Linked DNA regions of Homo sapiens: region 1 is linked to region 2. Evidence: fine-mapped expression QTL. Tissue or cell type: blood mononuclear cells. Region 2 holds a variant in brackets; the other region holds the start of a gene. All regions are shown on one strand. Distances are between the middles of the regions.

Region 1 (8,182 bases), 110 kb before region 2:
GGGTTCAAGTGATTCTCCTGCCTCAGCCTCCCAAGTAGCTGGGATTACAGGCACATGCCACCATGCCCGGCTAATTTTGTATTTTTAGTAGAGATGGGGTTTCTCCATGTTGGTCAGGATGGTCTTGAACTCCCGACCTCAGGTGATCCACCCGCCTTGGCTTCTCAAAGTGCTGGGATTACAGGCGTGAGCTACCGTGCTCGGCTTTTTTTTTTTTTTTTTTTTTTTTTTGAGACAGAGTCTCACTCTTGTTGCCCAGGCTGGAGTGCAACGGCACAATCTCGGCTCACTGCAACTTCCAACTCCCAGGTTCAAGCGATTCTCCTGCCTCAGCCTCCCAAGTAGCTGGGATTATAGGCATGTGCCACCACGCCTGGCTAATTTTTTGTATTTAGTAGAGATCACCTGAGTGGATCACCTGAGATCTTCTTTCCTTCTCTTTCTTTTTTTTTTTTTTAACATAGTCTCCCTCTGTCACCCAGGCTGGACGGCAGTGGTGTGATCTCAGCTCACTGAAACCTCCATCTCCTGGGTTCAAGCAATTCTCCTGCCTCACTCTCCGGAATAGCTGGGATTACAGCCATGCAACACCACGCCCTGCTAATTTTTGTATTTTTGGTAGAGATGGGGTTTCACCATGTTGGCCAGACTAGTTTCGACCTCCTGGCCTCAAGTGATCCACCTGCCTCTGCCTCTCAAGGTGCCAGGATTATAGGCATGAGCCCCCTCACCTGGCCAGATTTTCCTGGATCTCTTCCTACCAAACTGGCTCCTCCCTCTCAGGGTTCTTTGCTGGTTCCTTACCATTCCCTGACCTGTCATTGTTGGGGGACTGGGCTTAGTAGTAACACTCACATCCTAAAGGATCTCACTGAATTCAGAGGTTTTACCTACTCTGAGAACCACCTAAATTCTGTCTGTGGCCCAGACTTCTCCTCTGAAGTCTTCTTTTTTTTTTTTTTTTTTTTTTTTTGAGCCGAGTCTCGCTCTGTCACCCAGACTGGAGTGCAGTGGCGCAATCTCAGCTCAATGCAACCTCTGCCTCCCAGGTTCAAGCAATTCTCCTGCCTCAGTCTCCAGAGTAGCTCGGACCACTGGCGCACGCCACCACACCCGGCTAATTTTTGTATTTTTATTAGAGACGGGGTTTCACCATGTTAGTCAGGCTGGTCTCCAACTCCTGACCACAGGTGATCCGCCTGCCTCAGCCTCCCAAAGTGCTAGGATTACAGGCGTGAGCCACCGCGCCAGGACTTCTCCTCTGAACTCTTAAGTCCAACTTCCAACTTGGGTGTCCAACAGGCAGCTCAAACTTTGTATGTCCCTAAGTAAATTTCCAAGTTCCTCCCTTCACATCTGTTTCTGCTTAAATTTTCCCCATATCACCAAATTGTATTTTCCAGTTGCTTGAGAAAAAAAAAAATTAGAAATCAGGAAAATCCTTTTAGCTTTACCCTTTATTTATTTATTTTTTTTCTTGAGTCAGGGTCTCACTCTGTGGCCCAGGCTGGAGTGACAGTGGCACAGTCACAGCTCACCGTAGCCCCGACTCTCCAGGCTTAAGTGATCCTCCCACCTCAGCCTCTGGAGTAGCTGGGACTACAGGCACATGCTACCACGCCTGGCTAATTTTTTTTTCTAGAGACAGGAGTCTCACTATGTTGCCCAGACTGGTCTCCAACTCCTGGCCTCAAGTGATCCTTCCTCCTCTGCCTCCCAAAGTGGTGGGATTACAAGCGTGAGCCACCTTTTATTATTATTATTATTATTGAGACTGAGTACTGCTCTATTGCCCAGGCTGGAGTGCAGTGGCACAATCTTGGCTCATTGCAATCTCCCCTTACTGCAACCTTTGCCTCCCGGGTTCAAGCGATTCTCCTGTCTCAGCCTCCCGAATAGCTGGGATTACAGGTGCCCGCCACCATGCCCAGCTAATTTTTGTGTTTTTAGTAGAGACAGGGTTTCACCATGTTGGGCATGGTGATCTCGAACTGACCTCAAATGATCCTCCCACCTTGGACTCCCAAAGTGTTGGGATTCCAGGCGTGAGCCACCTTTTAAACGTGTCTACAGGTGATCATTTTACTCTTCTACTGCCACCACCCTGGACAGAGCCTTATCTTTTTTTTTTTTTTTTTTTTTTTTTGAGATGGAGTCTCCCTCTATCGCCCAGGCTGGAGTGCAGTGGCGCGATTTCGGCTCACTGCAACCTCCGCCTCCCGGGTTCAAGCAATTCTCCAGCCTCAGCCTCCCAAGTAGCTGGGGTTATTTTTGTATTTGTAGTAGAGACGGGGTTTCAACATACTGGTCAGACTGGTCTCGAACTCCTGACCTCAGGTGATCCCCCTGCTTCGGCCTTCCAAAGTGCTGGGGTTACAGGTGCGAGCCACCACGCCCGGCCGGACAGTCTTATCTTTTGGCTGGCTGATTTCAACAGGCTTCTCGCTGGTCCCCCTGCTGAAACCCTCAGGGCTTTCAGTCTGGTCCTCATACCACAGCCACAGGGATCCTCCTGAAATGTCATTCCACGTCCTTTCTCTGCTCGCAACCCTTCAAATTGCTTCCCATCTCCTTGAGAGTAAAAACAGGAAGTCCTAACTTTGGTTGGTAGGGCCGCACTTCTTCCTCATCTCTTCCCCTATCTGGGGCCGCTTTCAAGCCAGCAGATTCTCGCCTCAGGGCCTTGGTCCTGCTATTCCCTCTGCCTTTCCATACAGAAAGCTCCCAGGCTCTCTCTCTCCAGGAAGCTGCTCCCTGAATGAACACTGTAAATAACAACACCCTGCTTTCTCTCCCCTCCTCACCCAGTGGTGTTTTTAACTGTCCAGTATTTGTTTTTTTGTTGTTGTTTTTTGTTTGTTTTGTTTTTGTTTTTTGGAGATAGTCTCGCTGCGTCGCCCAGGCTGGAGTGCAGTGGCGCGATCTCGGCTCACTGTAACCTCCGCCTCCCGGGTTCAAGCGATTCTCCTGCCTCAGCCTCCTAAGTACCTGGGAATACAGACGCCCGCCACCACGCCCGGCTAATTGTTTTTTGTATTTTTAGTAGAGATGGGGTTTCACGGTGTTGGCCAGGCTGGTCTTGAACTCCTGACCTCGTGATCCGCCCACCTCGGCCTCCCAAAGTGCTGGGATTACAGGCGTGAGCCACCGCGCCTGGCCCAATTGTCCAGTATTATACATACCTGTAGGTTTATTAGTCAATTATTTGTCAACTGTTTGTGCTAGGAGCATGGACTGTTTCGCTCACTGCCCCATCCCTGACGTACAGGAGGCGCTTAAAAAGTAGTTCAGTTACACATTAAAAACAAAGAAACAAAAATACACACATATGGCATTTGTATGTGCCAGGCTCCGTTGTCAGAGCTTTGCAATGCACTGTCCCGTTCATCCTCAGAAGCCCGTGGCTGGTACCACTATATTATTACACACTTTTTTTTTTAATGTGTGAGGAAATCCAGGCACAGGGACGTGAAACAGCCCATAGATAGCAAATGGTGGAGCAGGACTTAAATCCAGGTTGCTGATTTAAATAGGAATATTCCCATTAATCTGGAACGTTCTGGCACTTGTCCCCCTGGATGCTGTGTCCCCCTGGATGCTAAAATGAAGCGATCTGCTCCAAGAAAGTAAGAATCGGTCTGCACAAAGTGGGATCCCGGCCTCTCGCAGAATTAAGCTTGAAGAGTTGAGGAAGTGGTCGTTGAAAGTGGGCGTGCGATTCCCGCAGTAAGAGCGCTCAGGCGGAGGAGAAAGGGCTGAGCCCCGCCTTGGAAGCTGCGGCGGAGGAAGAGGAACTGCGGGGCTTGGCTTCTGCTTTTCTCTGCGGCCCCTCCCGCTCGGGCCTCGCGCCTACTTGCGGCGCCCTGAGTCCGCCGGCCGCTCGGGGGCGCCCGAGGCGGAAGGGGGCGTTGCGGCACCGCCCGACGTCGCGTCCTCGGCGGCTGCGCAGTGCGCACGTCAAAGCCGGGCTCGGGCCGCAAGCGGGGCGAGGGGTTCGGGGAGCGGCGCGGCCTGGGAGACACAGAGCCTTCAGGCGCCGGGGCGGGGGCACAGGCGAAGACTAAGGCGGCGCCGGGCCCCACAGCAGCAGCCGCAGCCCAAGCGAGCGCAGCAGCGCGGCGGCAGCCGCGGGAGCCCCTGGGCAGCCGTCCGCCCGCGCAGCCGCCGCCGCCGCGGGAGCCCGTCGCCGGGAGCAGGAGCGGGCGGAAGACAACGGAGGGGCCGAGCGTCCGAGCCACTCCGCGGGGACCGAACGAGCAGCCCGAAGCGGCGGCGGCCGAGGACGGGGACAGCGACGACGCGGAGGCAGAGAAGGGAACGCCCGGCCCAGCCCCGTGAGTGACCCCCGGCCGGCCCTGCTCGTGGTGCGGACGCCTGCCCGGCTTCCGCCTGCCCCGCTGGGCCCTCACCGGCCCCGGGGCTGCCTCCATTTTCCTGGGTGGCGGCGGCCCCGGCCCAGCTTGTCCCCGGAGCCCCCGGGAGCAGCCGGGCCCAGCCTGCCCTCTCCGCCCGGCTCGGCTCCGGTCCCTCGCTGAGACGCTCCCTTTGCCTTCGCCGGCGTGGGGCGCCCGGGGGCCTGCAGTCCAGGCGCTCCTGCCTCTCCCCCCGTGGTTCTCTGGCGGGGCTGGCGGCGCGTGGTGGTCCGGGCCGGAGTCGGGCGGGCGGGGAAGTGCGGGCCGGGTCAACTGTCACCGGCTGCACCCGGGCTTCAGCGCCTCGCTCCCGCCCCTGGTAAACTTCCTGTTGTCGGGAGGCAGATACCAGCTTTGTGACCAATTCAGGAAAATGCCTAACTGATTTCTGGTTAGGAATTGGGCGGTCGGAGCGTTCTGGAGTTCAATGGAACCACCCCAAGCGCAGACTGCGTGCAGGCGCCGTAGTCGGCCCGCACCGGAGGGATTCAAAGGTGAAGCGGGCCCCGGTCCCCTCCCCCGAGGAGCTTAGGCTCTGGTGTGAGAGATAAGACGAGAACACAAATAACTGCGATACCGGGAAGGAGGTGATAAGTCCTGTGAAAGAACGACGGAGTGCTAGAACGGCACCCGGAAAAACCGAACCGATCACTTCTGCCTCGCAGAAACCTGGAAGGCTTCCTGGGCGGGGGATGCTGAGCAGAGTCTTGAAGGCCTGATGGGATTTAGGAGAGGAGGATTGCAGAAGAGGTGTGTGGAAGGGGTAGCAAAAGCGAGAAGACAAAGCCTAGAAATCATGGATAATTCCGTTTGTTGGCATGGTGCAGGGGGCGGGGGGTATTGGGCTAAAGAGGTATTTTGGGGCCAGATCCTTGAATGCTGTAGAGGAGCTATTTGAGCAGCATTCTAAGAGAAACTTAGAGCTCATTTCTCAGTGACTCATGAGCCCGGAAATGTAGGCTAGGGGATATTAAAGGCGCTCTTGTGAAAGGAGAGAGGAGGAGGCCCAGTCAGGAGTTGACATTCTGTGCCTTGAATGTAATGCAGTTTCAGATCGATTTTGACAGCTTCCCAGATAATCAAGTAAATCCATGCCCAGGCTAAGCAAAGTACCTTTGCAGAAAGCTTCATTAGATATCAGGCTCTTAAGAGGTAATGGAAAGGTGTCTATAAAATAAGCTCATCTGCACACAGAAGGTGTTTCTATTTGTGCGTTCGCTACAGTGCATAAAAACTTCTTGCACTTTGTATTAGGCGTATGTACTTTGGAATTACTAAGCTAAACCTACATTCTTTGAGGTGGCATTTGTGTAAAATAACATAAATTGATGATTTTTAAAAAATGGTTAGTAATATTCTGCTGTAGAAAGCCAGACGTAGACCTTTTACAGAAAGGTAAAACTTTGTTTTTATATTTTATTTTATTATGAAATCTTTATAGTAGAGCCAGAAGTGAAAGTGTTTAGCTTTATTTTGTAGTTTGTTCAAATTGTTAGGAAGTAATTAGCAGCTGTATTCGAAATCTAGAATATACGATCTGTGAAAGCAGCTTAGGGCCTAAGTTTTGTAAGCTTGCACTTGTTTGCGTGTATGACAAGTGAATGCCACCTTTTTGCAGTTTAAAAATTTTCTGCTTTTCAAAATAATACATGATCTTTGTCAAAGCTTCCAAAATTCAGGGAGTGCTAGAAAATCTTTAAAACATTTTCTATAATCTTACCACTTAGATTTGGTTACTGCTAACATTTTTGCGTATTTTCTTTCCAGTCTTTTTCTGTGTATTTTTTCTTTGCATAATGAAATATATTGTATGCATATGTATACACACACACATCTCTTATTAAGCTTTTCTTGTCATTAAATATCTTCATATAAAAAATTTTTACTCAACAATGGAAGTCTTCTAAGCATGTTATGTTTTCCTGACAAGGTTGTATTATTTACCTCAGATGAAATGCAGTAGTTAGGCTTAATAACTACTAGTGTGGACAGAACTTTTTCTGAAAGTTTCTTGTTTGAAGTATGTTTCTTTCTCTGTAAGACTTGGATCCTCTTGCTTGTTGAATAAAGTTTTTCTTGGCAGGATGTGTGTTGTCATGAGGTGTGGAAGAGGAAGAAAGCACACAGATCTCTGCTATAGGAGTGAATGGACTTTTAAAGGGATGTTGTCAAAAGATTACTGTCATGGCTGGTATACCATCCCCCACAGACGGCGATGCAGTGTCCCTTCCCACTCCCCACTTCGCTCCTGAAAAATAGTCTCTACACTAGGGCCATCCATATAGGTTAACTATTTTTTGAACATGACATCACGAAGACTCAGGCTGGATATAAGCATAGAATATTTCATGAAATGGTTTGCTACTATAACAAATGGGTGGTATTTGCCTTTTTGGTTTTGTTTTGTTTTTTGAGACAGGTTCTCACTCGGTCGCTCAGGCCGGAGTGCAGTGGTGCGAACATGGCTCACTGCAACCTCAACCTCCTGGGCTCAAGCCATCCTCTCACCTCAGCCTCCTGTAGACGGGACCACAGGCTCGTACCATCACATCCGGCTAATTTTTGTATTTTTATAGAGACAGGGTCTTGCCATGTTTCCCAGGCTGGTCTTGAACTGCTGGGCTCAAGTAATCTCGCCTTGTCCTCCCAAAGTGCAGGGATTACAGGCGTGAGCCACCACGCTTGCCTGGATATCTGTTTTTTTATTTCAAGGCAGCTTACTTCCCTTCATTAGCATTTTCTACTTCAGGTTCTTGTACTAAGTCAGTTTTTTCCCATGTATTTTACATTCTAAGGTGTATTAATAAGATCTCTGTTTCTGTTTCATCACGTATGAAGTAAGATGCTGAGTAAGGCTGTATACGTTTCCTAAAGTTAATGTAGAAGAACTGCTAAGAAAGTCCAGTATAAGTATGGGGTTTGGTAACTTGATTTTATTTGAATGTTTGTATATTGCAAATACGTATGCCACACAGGGTCTTTATTACCTTGGAATATTTACTAAAGTTTTCTGTTTTGATCAACTTTTGTGGGATTACAGATTTCTTTAGTTATTGCCATACTTTCCCAAGAGCCTTTTTTCCAGATTGATGACTAATCACTCACAGTTTAGCCATCTGCCATGAAAATACACAAATCCAACCTCCCCAACCCCCAAAAATAAAATTCAGTAGTAGGACGAATTTTGTTTCAGGTATTGTCTTTTGTTTACCTTTCTGGCATTGTTTCTATTCCAGCTCTATTTTATTTTTTAATTTAAAAAATGTTTTAATTAAAAGAGATGGTGTCTCATTCTGTTGCCCAGGCTGGTCTTGAACTCCTGGGCTTATGCCATCCTCCTGCCCCAGCCTCCCAAAGCACTGGGATTATAGGCCTGACCACACTGGCCTCCAGCCCTATTTTAAAAGGTCAGGCCGAGCGGGGTAGCTCACTCCTATAATCCCAGTGCTTTGGGAGGCCAAGGTGGGAGGATTGCTTGAGCCCAAGAGTTGGAGGCCGATCTGAGCAACATAGCAAGACCCTATATCCACAAAAATAAAAAATTAGCCGGGCATGGTGGTGTGTGTGCCTGTTGTCCTAGCTACTCAAGAGGCTGAGGCAGGAGGGATTGCCTGAGCCCAGGAATTTGCAGCCTCAGTGAATTTTGATCACTGCATTGCAGCCTGAGGTGACAGAGTGATACCCCATCTCAAAAAATGTATATATAAAATAAAAATAATAAAAATAAAAATTCATTTTCCTCTTTTTCATTGCTTCTTTTAATTGGGCAT
Region 2 (8,182 bases):
TCCATTTAAAATTTGACTCTGCCCAGAGTTCTTCCCCTCATGGGTGTCTGGACCGATAATGACCAAGATTCCATCCACTCATCCCCTTCCTACCGTGGGGAAATCTCCCTTGAAGACCTTATCTTTCTGTGGAAAAGACTAAAGGACACTAGGAGCATCTGGAATACTTTGTGTCCTTTGATAGGAACACTCCACCGTCCACATTTTCAATCAGCACTTTCTTTCAGAACAGCATATGCCTTTTTTCCGTGTAAGGCTGTAATTCCTGCAGCAGGGCATCCGTGACAGCCACAGCTGGGGAACAGGCACAGTCCAGCCAGGCCCCTTGCTTTCCATTCATTGCTGTTGCTTGGGCCCCACCTTCCCTGGCTTAGAGGATCATTTGCTGTCCTTTCATCTTTGGGGGGTTGGACAGAACTTCCTGGCAGCTGTGGGAGGAGTTTCTCCTCCCTGGACATCAGTGTGTGAGAGAGTGGAGGTTCCTGGGGCCTCTCCTGCTCTGTGATCCTCAAAGGGCTGAGGTATACTACTCTTGCCAGCAGTTATACAGATGCACACAGTTCACTGGAGTCAGTATCTTCTAAGGCCACAAAGGCCAGACAGGATAGCCTAGGTTAGTAGCTTCTAGGGCCATTGTGGGAGGAAGCTGGGGCCGGGGGTGCAGGGTGGAGGTTATTGGCAAATCCATAAACTTTGACCAAATGTTGGATTCTTGGGCTGTTTGGATAAGGAGAAAGGCCTTCAAGACCCTTCTGCCATTCAGAATTACCAACATGAAAAGAAAGGCTGAGACCACCATTTCCAAGCCCTTAGGAATGGATATAAAGCAAGTTGCTGGCTCCTGCAGTTTATGTTAGCGGTGGGCCTGTGAGTGCCCCATGAACACATGGAGCGGCTTCAGCACCAGCCGTACTTTAAAGATGGATTTTAATTTGTACTCTCTTTTTCGTAGCCACATTGGCATTTATTTATTCCCATATTTATGTCGCCAGCAAATTTATATTCCCTATGCAAGACTCCCAAGTTTTTTAGTAAAGTATTACATGTTTGGGCTGAGTATGGTGGCTCACGCCTGTAATCCCAGCACTTTGGGAGGCCAAGGTGGGTGGATGGATGGAGGTCAGGAGTTCAAGACCAGCCTGGCCAACATGGTGAAACCCTGTCTCTAGCCCCAAAAATTAATTAGCCAGGTGTGGTGGCACAAGCCTGTAGTCCCAGCTACTTGGGAGGCTGAGGCATGAGAATCACTTGAGCTCGGGAGGTGGAGGTTGCAGTGAGCCAAGATTGTGCCACTGCACTCCAGCCTTTGTGACAGAGTGAGACTATCTCAAAAAATAAAAAAAGAATTACATATTTGAAGTCATCTTCCTTCAGATTTTCTTTGGTTTCTGTGATAGAAAAAGAACACGAAAGCTATAAATCACATAATACTAACTTTTCAGTCTTTGTAAGATACTGGTTGCTTCTCACCGTAAGAATAGATTTTGTGATTCACATTGATATGAAGCCTACTCCTTTCAGTTTTTCCTATGAGTTCCTTATAAAGCCTAAGTAAAATAGATTTGTTTTCTTGTACATCAGCTCATTTTTTATTTAATATGATGACAAGTTACTTATCCAGAGATCAGTTACCTGGAAACTTCAAGTATCTAGAACATAGCCAGAAACCCAGAAAGGAAGCAACAAAAGCAATTAAAGCAAAGCCACAGAGCCGCTATTTGCGCCTTTTCTTCCCTTAGCCCTCACTCACTCACATCTCTGCAGATACAGGCCTGATACGTGCTTTGCACACTGATGCTCGTTTCTCACTGCACTCTCCTGAGAGAGAGGCACTGTTCCATTATACAGATGATGGAACCGAGACACAGAGGAGTTCAGTAACGTGCTCAAGATTACAGAGCTCACAAGAAGTAGGGAGCCAGGATTGGAACCCAGGCAGGCTGGCACCAGGGACCAAGCTCTCCACAGCTCTGCCACCGCCCACAAGGACCGCAGCTTGGCACCTGCCCCACTGCCGGCTCTGCACACTCAGCCTTGGCCAGGTTGTTGGCATGTTGACAACCTGAAGAAGTGACTGCTGGTTTTAGGAAAGAGTAAGCCGTGACAGTTTAAAAGTTATGAGTTTATATGATATAACCAACTCTCCAGAAATTAGTAAACCCTTGAAGTAAACAGATGTTTTTTTAGCATTAATTGGTATAATTAGTGATGGTGAGGGGTCAGTAAGAAAACACTGGATTATCTTCAGGAGACCTAAGAAGGAGCAGAAAAATACTCACTTGTGTAAACCTTTCTGAATTAGCTGTGATAAAACGATAACTGTGGCATGTGCAGGGTACACAAATGGAAAACTTTGGACACAAAACCCTTTATCTTGGAAAGTCCCGCTAAATAAAATTTAAAAATAGTTGTTTTAAATTAAGCTAAGGTTTGTGGTTAGTTAACAGGAATAATCAATAACTTTTGACCATTTTCTTGAATAGTTTCTTTTTAGTGAGCTAACACAAATGCACGCTTAAAGGGGAGGCTTTGAGAGTCTCCCACTGGGGCCAAGGGGGCATCTTGAACATCCTCTGCAGAGAGAAGCGTCAGGCCTCCCGTAGACTTCATCTCTCAGGGAAAGGGAGGAAGGCATTCAGGTGGCAGAGAGAAGGCCCTTCGTAGCTTTTAGGTTGTAATTCAGTTCAGTTCTTCGGTCTTTTGAGTGCCTACTAATACTCTATACTTGATGATTATAAAATAAATTGTTTTTTTAAACTTTGATTTTTCTTTAAGTTTTAATAACAAGGTAATTGTTTAAATGTCTTCTCAGCTTCTCGGTGAACTACTACTAGATAGACACAACTTCACAATTATGACAAAATACATCAGTAAACCTGAGAACCTCAAATTAATGATGAACCTGCTGCGAGACAAAAGTCGCAACATCCAGTTTGAGGCCTTTCACGTTTTTAAGGTAGAGTACTAGAAGCATCAGTGATACTGTCCACTGGAATTGTTCGTCGTCTTTCATTCGCAAATAACGGAAATTATTAGCCTCACTCTGGTAATCCAGGTGACTTAATTAAATTCAGTCACTTTTCATATTTGTGTGCTATGACTTTTAAACAGAAAGGTAGACCTGGAAACGGGTTACTGTTTGGATCTGGGAACGAGAAGGTTTGTTCATAGAAGAGTGTCATTTATCTTTGGCCTAGAAGATTAGTAACTGCAAAACAAAAGCATTTCTTAATGCTTTCTGTGGAGGTTTCATTCTTAAAATCCCATCTGACCTCTTGTGCTGAGAAATAATTTCTGCCCATTTTATTCTAAAATCAAAGTCTGTATTTAATACTAAACACTGTGTTGCAGGGCTGGCAGAATGAGTTTATCAGTCGTATTTGTGTTAAAACATGTAATTATTATTTTTTTTTCCAAATTGTAAAATAACGCCTTCTAAAGCAAAACCTAATGACCCTGACTTCAGCGCCATCCCAGGAGAGCACAGCTCTGCTTTTCTGCACTGTGGCCGCAGCTCAGGTGTGGCTGCGTTTTGTCCTTTCTCTGTGCCTCATGTGCGTTTCTCTCCACGCAGGTGTTTGTAGCCAATCCTAACAAGACGCAGCCCATCCTAGACATCCTCCTCAAGAACCAGGCCAAACTCATAGAGTTCCTCAGCAAGTTTCAGAACGACAGGACGGAGGATGAGCAGTTTAACGACGAGAAGACCTATTTAGTTAAACAGATCAGGGATTTGAAGAGACCAGCTCAGCAAGAAGCTTAATCTCCAATAAACATCTATGTTAAATCCAAATTCAGCATTTGCTGTTAGCTATTCAGCATCAGGCACT[CTT/C]ATTGATTCATGAGGAACATTACTGCTAATCTGCTGTTAAGTGAACGGTTTTTCATTTTACCCTTTTGTTTTTCAGTCCAGGTTGGAGATCGTAGCTGCTGCTGCTTGCACACTAGGGCACATGTGGGCTTTCTCTTGATCTTTGTGTCATTTCAGAATTCAAAGACTGTGCTACGGGAGTTCTGAACATGGCTGGGTTCATGAAGGCAAATGTATGGATGAGAGTGTGGTTTAGGAAAGAGGGCACTGATATCAGATTAGACCTATGTGTTTGCACCCATCTTTGTTGGCGATCTGAGTGCAGTGTGGCAAGTGCACACCTGGCATCCCTGCGTCAGATCGCGCACCTTCAGGTCGCGCACCTTCGCTGAAGGAAGATGACGCAGAGCTTTATCTGAAATCAGAGGGGAGCTATCCAAAATGGGAGTTTGGGGGCAGCTAAAGTTGACATGCGAATAAATTGATACTGAAACTTAGCAACTTCTTAAAAGTGTAAAGAAGCCTCATAAGATCATAAGGAAAATGTATATATGCTTTTCACAGCTTTCTAGAATTTTTTGACATTTGATTTTCTTGAGACTTGTAAACCTGGATATGTTGAAGGGTATTTGTTAATTTTACTTTTCAAAGATACTTTAAAACAGTAGAGCTAGCAATGACACCTTGCATTTCATTTCAACACTGCTTCAAGGTTTCTTTTGTATATAATTCTTAGAATGCTCATTTCTTTTAAATGGTTTAATTTGTACAGCAGAGGAATGTTATTGTAGTAGTATGTAACTATTACCTAATACTGAGTTTTTGCAAAAAACAATGAATGCTCATATGTAATTGAAATACTTCAGATCACATGAAAATGCTGATTTAACATTTAAGTATCACAGCATTAAAAGAAAAAGAAAGTAAACCAGTCCTTTGTATTCAGTTACCTAATGGGGTGCCATCAATAAGCTGCGATACAGCCCTGGAGCTCAGTCAGCCACACCTTCCTGCATCCTATTGGCCTTATTCATTTTAAATGAGTTAATGAATCTGCCAGATCTGTGAATGATAGAGATTATGCTAAATTAATGCTGATTCTTTGTGTGTGTGGGAAATCTCTGTAGAGCACCTTTTCTTTCTTAGACTAAGTAACCCAGTACAATAGTTGTGAACTGAATAATTAAAACTTTGGCTTCTCTTAGGAAAAGACGACTTCCTAGTCATAGGTGTCCTATGGGGAAATTTATTTTTTTTAATGTCCTGTTCCTTAATGCTGCAAATTATCAGTATTTATAAAGTAACTGATTTTGCACCACTTTTTTGTTACTGTGACCACGGCAGAACAATGTCTTCTAGACTATATCTATGTAAAGTTATTAGAATGGTATCTGTTCATTTTAGTGATATGAAGATCACAACTAACAACTGACAAATCAGAGTTTGCCAGTTCAAATTCAGCATGGCTGCAGCTGATTAAGAAATTGATATGATTATTCTTTGCTAGCCTCTCTTACTAATGGAATTATATACTGGCCAGTAAAATGGGCCTCCCAATTGCTGTTTCAGCAGGTTTTAAACCTTCAGGAACACCAGTTAGGAAAATAGCTCCAGAAAATATAGATATATTTTATTTTTATTAAAATGGCAGTCTACATCATAATTGGCATTTCTCAAGACTGTCTTTACCAGAATCTGTGTGAAATAAGGCAATCTAGTCTCCTTGAAAAAAAAATCTCTTGGATGTTTAGGAAGGAAGACTTGGCCGTGATGTGGTGTCCTGGCTTTGTGGTGTAGTGCTGTGTGTATGGAGTTAGTGTAAAAACATGGATTACACCAAGTGGAAGAAACGTCTTCTTGCCAAGCTCATTCTTAGAACTTACACATCTAGAACAGCTTCCACTTTGGCAGTGAGGTCGTAGCCTTTTAGGTGGAAGAAGTGAGGGTGCAGCGTGTCAGACACAACATTCATGTTACTCTTACATTGGAATCTGAAGGTAGTTCAGACTTCGTGGGTTTTGTTTTTAAGCAAAACAATGTGAAAACATTTAAGTTTGAAATGTTGCATTTGAAGTTATGATCATTTAATATATTCATATTACCAAGACTATTATACTGGAAGTGGTTTTTGTGTTATAAAGGTTTAATTTTACATAAGGCAGTTACTTAATGTGATTTTTAACCCTTAAAAAAGTGGAGATGTATACATTTGTTAACAATGCCATGAAAGCATTTTCTTTCTCCTAAGGAAAAGTGAATTTCTTATCAGAATATCTGGCTGGCCCTGTAATTTAAATTAAAATAAAATTTTGGAGAAACAGCATTGTCTGTCTTTATGATGTGTTATAGACAGTTGCATTTGTGTTACTGTGAACAGCTTCATCAGGAGACACACAAGCCCGAATTTTATCACCAACTGAAAGTGGAGGGACAGTTAACACCCATTCCTGTCTGCCTTTTTCCCTGTTCAGGGGCTTCACTTCCCCCCCACCGCCCCCGTGCTCATGTTTTCCTTACCCTTCCTGAGTAAAATCACACCTTTTAATGGTACCATTTCTTAGACCCTAACGTTTGAGGAGTAGATCCTCTCTTGCGCTGTTAGCAACACCGCGAGGCTAAACTAGAACACTCGGCCCGGAGTATTCACAGGTTACTGATGTGAAATGATCATGAAGGCGAGGGGACCGTGGAAGCAGGCACAAGAACTCTGGCACCGTAAAGAATGTCCCTCGTCTGCCTTCCAGGGTGCCTCGTAATCCTTAGTTCACAGCCCTGCCCTCGACTTTAACCCCTGTCAGTAAATGAAATCTTATTCTCTGGAGTGAAGGCAAGGGACATGCTCTTGCCAAAAACACTTCATCCGAATAACAATGTCCTATTTGTTATTTCTGTCAAGTAGTTCAGTCTACTTGTACGTTGTAGTTCCCCAAAGGTGACAAGGGCCCATTAAGTCATAACTTGTGACTTGGCCACTTATAAGGATCACCAGGCTGAGGACTGGATTCACGCTTCAGCTCAAATTCCACTTCCTACCACAATCCCCCATCAAATGCCCTCCTCCCCTTGCCAAAGAAGCTCCAGAACGTTGCACTTCAGGCAGCTCAGGAGTAGTGCAGTTCTCACCCAGCCTTCCTAGTTAGGCTCCAACAAGGTCCTGATCGGGAAGTGCTCTGAGGCTGCAGTCAGTGCCCAATACCTTGTTCATGCTGGAGGTTAGAGCCACTCACGGTCATGAGAAAGCCCACCTGCCAACGTGCCAAAGTTGTCCTTTAGGGGAAGAGCGGGCAGCCCAGCACACACCGCCCTTCAGGTACTCCCGGATGTGTCAGGAATCTTCTCCCTGGCCATGGCTGTGTCCTCACTGACCATCTGGTTTCCAGAAGACATGAAGGACAGGGTAAGATTCTCCCCAGTCAGCAATCTCAGTACTGCAGAAAGACCCACTGGAGCTTTTCTCTACGAATACCATCCGCTTTCACCCGTTGACAGTCTGCTTGCGGTCAACCAGCACACCTCCGCCACCGAGCACTTTAGACCCAAGAAGTGCCTAATAAGGATCTTAAGCTTTCGAACCTCCAGGAATCCTGCCACCAGCATTCACGCTGACTGAAGAGGATGGTGGTGGTTGCACAAGGCTGTGTCACTGCACAGCTATATGAGGCCTTCATGTTGTGTGTGCCCTTACAGTGTCCTCTAAAACCTTGCTCATGTCTGAGAACTGGCAGCCAAGTGTCCGTCCCCACTGTGGCTGGAAGGTGGGGTAGGTTCCACCTGAGGGCACGTCCGCCGGGAGCTAAATCTCCAAGGACCGTGACCCCCTGGTTTCTTTTCTTTTTTTATTTTTTTATTTTTTTTTTTTGAGACGGAATCTTGCTCTGTCGCCCAGGCTGGAGTGCAGTGGCGCGATCTCGGCTCACTGCAAGCTCCACCTCGGGTTCACACCATTCTCCTACCTCAGCCCCCTGAGTAGCTGGGACTACAGGTGCCTGCTAATTTTTTGTATTTTTTAATAGAGACAGGGTTTCACCGTGTTAGCCAGGCTGGTCTCGATCTCCTGACCTCGTGATCTGCCCGCCTCGGCCTCCCAAAGTGCTGGGATTACAGGCATGAGCCACCACCCCCAGCCAGACCCCCTGGTTTCTATGCAGAAGATTTCATCCTTTGCAATTTGTTAAATTTTTATTATTTTTTCTAGGTAGCACTTCAGTAGTAAGACAGACCCCAGAGATTTCTGGAAAAGAGTGACATTTTTTCAACATTCTGCACAAGATTGACAGGTTTTACAGATGAGCTTTAGCTCACAAGAGCCCCTTTCCCTTGGTAATAATTTATTATCACCTAAATATTGGTGTTCCGTGGAAACAGCATGGT

Evidence for each region. PIP is the estimated chance that this variant, and not a neighbour inherited with it, causes the effect.
Region 1: CAB39 starts here. The variant in region 2 is fine-mapped to the expression of CAB39 in blood mononuclear cells (TOPMed, PIP above 0.99). The same link has a PIP of 0.9 or more in lung.

Annotation. Positions count from the first base shown.
Region 1 is chr2:230,708,897-230,717,078 of GRCh38, forward strand. CAB39 (calcium binding protein 39) reads left to right here and starts at 3,946. Exons shown (of 9, transcript NM_016289.4): 1 at 3,946-4,334. It overlaps LOC124907996 (formin-like protein 16), which reads right to left and starts at 4,430. Exons shown (of 4, transcript XM_047446832.1): 1 at 3,183-4,430. The coding sequence starts at 4,430. The coding sequence ends at 3,672. RefSeq lists a silencer at 3,718-4,657.
Region 2 is chr2:230,814,942-230,823,123 of GRCh38, forward strand. It overlaps CAB39 (calcium binding protein 39), which reads left to right. Exons shown (of 9, transcript NM_016289.4): 8 at 2,813-2,956; 9 at 3,575-6,134. The coding sequence ends at 3,763. Among named protein-coding and RNA genes, the nearest start is that of ITM2C, 46 kb to the right of the region's middle. The variant CTT/C (reference allele first, on the strand shown) is at 3,831.